Homo sapiens: one gene and its partner. The protein of the gene in region 1 interacts with the protein of each later gene in a biochemical or structural test. Each region holds a gene or a part of one and is shown on either strand. Other genes may lie near its edges. The genes, in order: THRB and MMS19.

Region 1 (3,827 bases):
GCAATGATTTCACAGAAGGAAAATCTCAGCTTAATTCCAAAGGTCACACAGCTAGTAAGTGACAGATCTGGGACTCGAACAGAAGTTTTTCTGATTAGAAAGCCTGAGCTCTTAGAATCCCTCACAAGCAAGTAAAGGGCACTCAAAATTTATTTCCATACAGTCTAGATTAACACTGAGTTTTTAAACCTCATAGACACTAGTATCTTAAACTTCTCAATAGAACACTGAAATAGATAATCAATAATAAGTTTGTCATAGTGGCATATCTAAGTATTTGGCTGTAAGTCAATCATATTCACATATCCCTATCAGGCATATTGTTGGCAAGGGCTAAAGGCCTTTAAGAGATAAAGATAAAGAAAATACTCAGCCAGAGGTGGGGATTAACCCAGGATTTCCAGCCTAACACTCTAACATAACCCTCTTCCTTTTTAAAGATTCTCCATTCCTTCTTCTTTAATGGGCAAACCAGAACATTTCACAGATTTTTTTTTCTCAGTGAAAGAACTCTATTTCTCACATAAAATGTGAGTCATGATTACTTCTTTCATCAGGAAAAATCCTCACTGTATTTTCTTTTTTCTTTCTTCATTTTTTATCTTTCTTTTTCTTTTTAATTTTTAACTAATAGTTGGAATCTCTCACTGATGTGCAAAAAATTTATGCCAGTAGAATCATTAATACTGATGCCTGGCAAAAGGGAGGCCACACATTCTGAATGACATGATTCTTATTTTTATGATTAGATTAATTAAAGTGACTGGTGTAAATCCCTCGCACAGTGTGGGGAGAAGAGACCCCAAGGGCTAATCTCGCCACCATATGCTGTAGCACTTTGAAAACTGGGTAGGACGACTTCAGCTCGGAATGTCTTTATTGCTAAAAATATAACAAACAACCAACTGCAGGATGACTCATGCAATAGCACTCAACTTTGCATTCTTCAGAAATTTCTGAACACGATGTTTTCTGCCAGCGCCCCATCTCCAAAAATGTCCATAAAATAAATTCCTGTCTTTGCTCTTGAAAAAATATTAGGACTAGTCCCTGAGGCTCTACCCCATGTGAACACTGTGTATAGAATGATACCTTATCAAGGTAAATGGACCAGACCTCTCATTTGTAATCTCTGTCTCAAACAGAGTGTTGCTAACAACTAGGCCTGCAAATGTGATAGGGATAATTTAACTGCATTTCCTCCTCCATCATCCATACTTTGACAGTTAGGAGGTGGTATGACAGGGTAGGATGGAACCCACCCAGCAATGGCTCCCACCTCCCTTTCAGGGCAAGCCTGGATGTGGGGAGTGAGGGGTGTATGCGAAAGTAAGGTATTCCCTTCTCTGTCTTCTTGGGTTCCTGCCTTCTTTTCTGCCCAGTCGATCTCCTTGAACCAAACTGTTTCCTAATCAACATTCCTTGAATATGAAGCAAGTGAAGATCTACTTACAATCTGTTGCCATGCCAACATAGATGCATTTCTTAAAGCGACATTCCTGGCACTGATTTCGCGTGACTTTGTCTATGACACATTTTCCTTCATATTTACAGGAATAGGATGGATGGAGATTTTTCTGAATGGTTCTTCTAAAGAAACCCTATATGAAAAACAAAGACCCAAGACAACAGTTTCATATTTTCTTGAAATCAGTGATTCTGGAATTTTGTGTCCATATAACTATGAGATGAATCGTTTTGGACCTTAACCTGTTTCTAGGCCTCTAGCTCCACATATTCAAATATAAGACAGTTGGCCCAGAAGGATCTAGAGAGTTCTAAATCTGAGCTGATGATGCCATAGGACTACAGAGTCAACACCTTTTTTTTTGGTCTTTATTCAAGGAAAAGAGGCTAGTAGGAACATCTAGCGCTTGTTTTTATTTTTTCTAAATATTGAATATATAAGTAAATTATACTGTTCTATTTCATATACTGACATAATTGTGTTGCTAAATTAAGCTATGAGGAGTTTTGCTACTTTATACTGAGTAATAAGAGAGCTCCAAGACCAAGAAGAAAGTGAAAAAAATGAAAAGACATGGATACTTGCAATACTTTATTAATTAAAAATCTAATAATTTAGTAATTAAACAGATGTACTAGCTGGCTTCCTGGATTTAGTTTAATACTTGTTTTTGAATCTTGAGACAGCCATGATCAGCTCACTTAGCCTTTCAAACAATAGGACTCAGGGAGTAGAACGCTCCAGGTTTTCTACCAAGTTTTTCCCCATAGCTCATTGCATTGAGGTTTTCCTTTTATAACACTCTTTCTTTGGTATCTGTAGACATACACCTACAGGTTCAATGATTCTTCCTTTCTTAAGGCATGAGAGAGCACCTCTGTAGCATCTGGGGACACTGTTTAGTTCTAGGTTTGGGTGACTTAGGTAATATTCTCAAGAATGTGCAATACTAGAATTTTTCTGGACGTGATCCTCAAGTTGAGGCAACTGTCATCTGTATTGTAGAAGTTAATAACAGCAGTGAGCACTTATTGTGAGGGCACATTGCTAAGTGCTGTAGAAACATTCAATATCCTTCTATCTTCCCTACAATCATGTAAAGGAGGTGCTCTAAATATTTCCATGGTAGGGATTAAAAAAGTAAACCTCAGACAGGTTAAATCGCTTGCCCAAATCACATGGTAAGTACATGTGGGAACTTCAGGTAGGATGGAAACCACCCAGCAATGACCCCCACCTCCCTTGCAACCCAGGAGCGGCACTCCACATCTTACTTGCTTAACTGCTTATATGATGTATAATGAAGTAAATTTTACTGTATTACTTGAATGTTTTAGATCAACAGATTATAAACAGTCCTGCCCCAGCCACTTAAAAAGTTCATTTTAACTGTTGGTAGGATAACAAGGCAAAATGAGTGTTTTAAAATGTAAGAAATTAAAAAAAATTTTTTTTGAGACAGAGTCTCGCTCTGTCACCTAGGCTGGGGTGCAGTGGTGCGATCTTGGCTCACTACAACCTCCACCTCCAGGGTGCAAGTGATTCTCATATCTTAGCATCCAGAGTAGCTGGGATTACAGGCGTGTGCTACCACACCTGGCTAATTTTTGTATTTTTAGTAGAGACGGGGTTTTGCCATGTTGGCCAGGCTGGTCTCGAACTCCTGGCCTTCAGTGATCCGTCCTCCTTGGCCTCCCAAAGTGCTGGGATTATAGGCGTGAGCCACCACGCCTGGCTAATTTTTGTATTTTTAGTAGAGATGCGTTTTTGCCATATTGGCCAGGCTGGTCTCCAACACCTGGCCTCAAGTGATCCGTCTGCCTCCGCCTCCCAAAGTGCTGGGATTACAGGCATGAGCCACTGTTCCTGGTGGCAAAACAAGTTTTGATGGATGTCTTCTGCTAAGGCCTAAAGGGGTCCTCTAACTTTGCTAGATAAATGGTGGGAAATATCAGTTGATCTAGATTCAGCCCAAATTTTTATGATCCCGGTTAATGTTCTTTGGCTTTGATTATATACGTATACCCTATTGCATATTCCTCCTTCAGACACAAAAGCTCTTTCTTATTATGAAAATGCCCGAGGTAGGATTTTATATTGGGCAAAGCAGAATAAAATAGAAAAACATCAGGAATAACTGAGACTAACAGACTTGATTTTGGGGCGTATATGCAAATCCCTTATCATTTCCATTGTTCAAGTTCTAACAGAAAACTGTCAATATTATATTTGGGTTCTGTGTTCCTAAGCACTTGAGTCCATTAATTTCAGTGATGTTCATACACTGTTACAAGATTCACTCATTCACACGCAGGGCAGTTGTTGGAGATGTTGGCAATGATTTCCTGGGTGTGCAGGG
Region 2 (3,827 bases), on another chromosome or scaffold:
GAAAAGGTGCTCAACCATATTTACAATAAAAGATGTAAATTAAACTACACAGAAACTTTTTAAGAAAATCTAACAGACTGGCAAAGACAAAAAACTTAGCAATATATTATGTTTGGTCATGATATTCAGAAACAGACATTCTTAAACATTGTAGGTAGGATTATAAACTGGTGCAACCCTATATTGAGGGCAATATAACATCTTTAGAATTCCAGGTACATATAGGCTTTAACCCAGGAAAGCTAGAAGTTTATCCTCTAGCTATCTAGTCATCTTTTGGTATATACATGAGAGACTGGCTCCAGGACCTCCTGAGGATACTAAAATCTGTGGATGCTCAAGACCCTTATATAAAATGGTAAGAGTATTTGCATACAAACTATGGACACTCTCCTGTATACTTTAAATCATCTCTAGATTACTCATAATACTTAATACAATCTAAGTGCTACGCAAATAGTTGTTACATTGTATTGTTTAGTGAATAATGACAGGAAAAAAGTCTATACATGTTTGGTACAGTTGCTATTTTTTCCCCCAAATACTTTTGACCTGCAGTTGCTTGAATCAAGGATGCAGAACACACAGATATGGAGGGCTAACTGTACTGTGAAAGTGCAAAATAATGCATGTATAACGTTATTCAATACAGCATTATTCGTAACAGTAAATGACTGCAAACAACACATGCCCATCAATAAGAAACCAGTTAAATGAATTATAGTACATCCATACAATGGAATTCTCTGTAGCTACTTTTATTTATTTTTTAATCTTTTTTATTTTTATTTTTTGAGACAGCATCCTGCTCTGTTGCCCAGGCTGGATTGTATTTTTAGTAGAGATGGGGCTTTTGCCATGTTGCCTATGGCTGGTCTCGAACTCCTGAGCTCAAGTGATCCGCCTGCCTTGGCCTCCCAAAGTGCTGAGATTACAGACATGAGCCAACACACCGGGCCTGTAGCTACTTTTAAAAAGACAAATGAAGAAAGACTGAAGCTACATATATACTGATAATGAGTCAAGATCTAAAATAACAGTGTGTATAAACAGTGTATATAATATGTGCGTAGCATTGTTTTTAAAGGGAGGGGGGATTGTTTTTATTTGCATTTATTTACATCTCTGGAAGATATAAAAGGAACTAATAACATTTGTTGCCTTCAGGGAGGGAAAATGCATAGTTAAGGGTTGAGAGGTAGACTATTGTTTTAAAAGAAATATTTCATTTTGGAATAATTTTACATTTATAGCAAAGTTGCAATGACAGTGCGGAGTTCCCGTATAGCCATCACTCGGTTTCTCTTAATGTTAACGTCTTACATGGCACACATCTGTGAAACTATGTACGAGTGTCAAAACTAAGAGATTAGGTTAGCACTGATACACACTATTAACTAAACTCTAGGCTTTATTCAGATTTCAATAGTTTCTCCACTAATGCCAAATTTCTGTTCCAGGATCCAATTAAGAATACCAAATTGCAGTTAGTCATCTTGAATTCTTAGTCTCTCCTGGTCTGTGAAAGTTTCTTAGTCTTTCCTTGTTTTTCATGACCTTGATAGTTTTAAAGAAGTACTTTATAGAAGGTTCCCCAATTTGCATTTGTTTGATGTTTCCCTCATGTTTAGACTGGGGTTATGGGTTTTAAAAAAGAATATCACAGAGGTGAAGTACCCTTCTCAACATATCATATCAGGGATATAAGATAGTAACATGGCTTCTCCATCACTGGCAATGTTAATGTTTATCACTTGGTTAAGGTATGTCTGCCAGGTCTCTGCACTATAGTTACTACTTTTCTCTTTCTGGTACTCTTTTATTTGTAAGGTATTCATTAAGTCCAGCTCACATTCAGTGGGGAGGGGAAGATTAAACTCCACCTCCTGGAGGGAGGAGTATCTACCTATATTATTTGGATTTTTTTTTTGAGGCAGGGTCTAGCTCTGTGCAGTAGTACAATCATGGCTCACTGCAGCCTCGACTTCCCAGGCTCAAGTGATCCTCTCACCTCAGCCTCCCGAGTAGCTGGGACTACAGGCATGCACCACCATGCCCGCCTAATTTTTGTATTTTTTTGTAGGGACAGGGTTTTGCCATGTTGCCCAGGCTGGTCTCAAATTCCTGGGCTCAAGTGATCCACCCACCTTGACCTCTCAAAGTGCTGGGACTACAGATGTGAGCCACTGCACCTGGCCTTTAAATGCAATTTTAGCAGCACAATAGTAACTCACATATATTGAAGAGAAGCATCTTAGAATGTATTTTCAAGGGAGAAACAGGGTAAAAGGCTAACAATCTTCATAAGGCTTTGGTTCACATTGAACACTTATAGCTAAATAAGGTGTGACAACCAGAGAATTACTTCCAGCAGCCTGTTCTGGGTTCCTAATCCACCTACCTCTAAATGCAGAACCTTAACTAGTCAGCTTGTGCCAATGCTGGAAAAAGTGAAAGAGAGGTCTGAAGAAATCCTAAACTTCCAGTTCTCCTAAAGTCTGTGGTCTCACAGCAACAGTTATGAGCTGACCTGGGCAGAGGCTCACTCTAGCACCACAGTAAGAAGTCGTCCAATGAGACTGAGGAAAATGAGAGCTCTAGTTAGGACTTATAGCTCGTGACTGGCACCAATTTAGACATCAGGCACTCTTAGCCCACTTGTGCCAGGATGTGGAAGGCCCAGCTGCTGCCCCAGCTCCTGAGAAAGAGCCAAGGGAAAAAATGAGCAGACTGTAAGGGTGGGGGAAGGGGTAGCAGCCAGACTAACAGGCCAAACAAACCAAGTTGGGTTCTATACCCAATTCCTTAATGGCAACACTTACATGAACTGAAACACCTATTTCTGGGTTACGAACCACAAAAGGGCATTGCAACATTTGGGAAGGTAGAAAAGGGTACTTTCTTGGAACAGCCTGGCTATAGTACAGAAAACTCTGCTGAAACAACCCATCTAAAAACTAATTTCAATAATGGGCACAGAAGGAGTTAATAATTGTACAGATGAAGCCATAGGGGACTAACAACTGTTAATAGCAAAGGATATCAATGAACTGAATCATTTTTCTTCAGCAATACCATCAAAACCCTCTGTGGATGTCAGGCTAGGGTCTATATTTGGAACGAAGGCTCTAAGACAAGAAGTGCCAAATAGGGCCCATTCAGTACCTTCTATTTTTTCATTTTTTTAAAAAAATTGAGGTAAAGGCCGGGCGTGGTGGCTCACGCCTATAATCCCAGCACTCTGGGAGGACGAGGTGGGTGGATCATGAGGTCAGGAGATCGAGACCAGTCTGGCCAATATGGTGAAACCCCATCTCTACCAAAAATTAAAAAATTAGCTGGGTGTAGTGGCATGCGCCTGTAGTCCCAGCTACTCAGGAGACTGAGGCAGAAGAATTGCTTGAACCTGGGAGGCAGAGGTTGCAGTGAGCCGAAATCACGCCTGGGCGATAGAGCGAGACTCCGTCTCAAAGAAAAAAAAAGAAAAATGCTTCTTTGGCATTCTGCATACATTAATATGAAAATGGCTGCTTTATAATTACAAATAAATAGCCATTTGCATGTGGTTCCTTGAATCCCAGTATGTGGGTGAACTCTCCTGGCAAAGCCCTTTAGTCTTCATATAGCTTTCACAAAATTCTTGAATTAATGCAGCACAAACATAAAAGTGACTATAAGGCCGGGCACGGTGGCTCATGCCAGTAATCCTAGTACTCTGGGAGGCCGAGGTGGGTGGATCACCTCAGGTCAGGAGTTTGAGACCAGTCTGGCCAACGTGGCAAAAACCTGTCTCTACTAACACAAAAACTAGCCGGGTGTGGTAGCGC

What was found.
Region 2: the proteins of THRB (region 1) and MMS19 form a complex in vitro, tested with the Homo sapiens proteins (one study listed by BioGRID).

The regions. Positions count from the first base shown.
Region 1 is NC_000003.12:24,145,222-24,149,048, forward strand, and holds part of THRB (thyroid hormone receptor beta), read right to left. Parts: intron 1,602-3,827; coding exon 1,454-1,601; intron 1-1,453.
Region 2 is NC_000010.11:97,488,182-97,492,008, forward strand, and holds part of MMS19 (MMS19 nucleotide excision repair protein homolog), read right to left. Parts: intron 1-3,827. UniProt on the Homo sapiens protein: Key component of the cytosolic iron-sulfur protein assembly (CIA) complex, a multiprotein complex that mediates the incorporation of iron-sulfur cluster into apoproteins specifically involved in DNA metabolism and genomic integrity.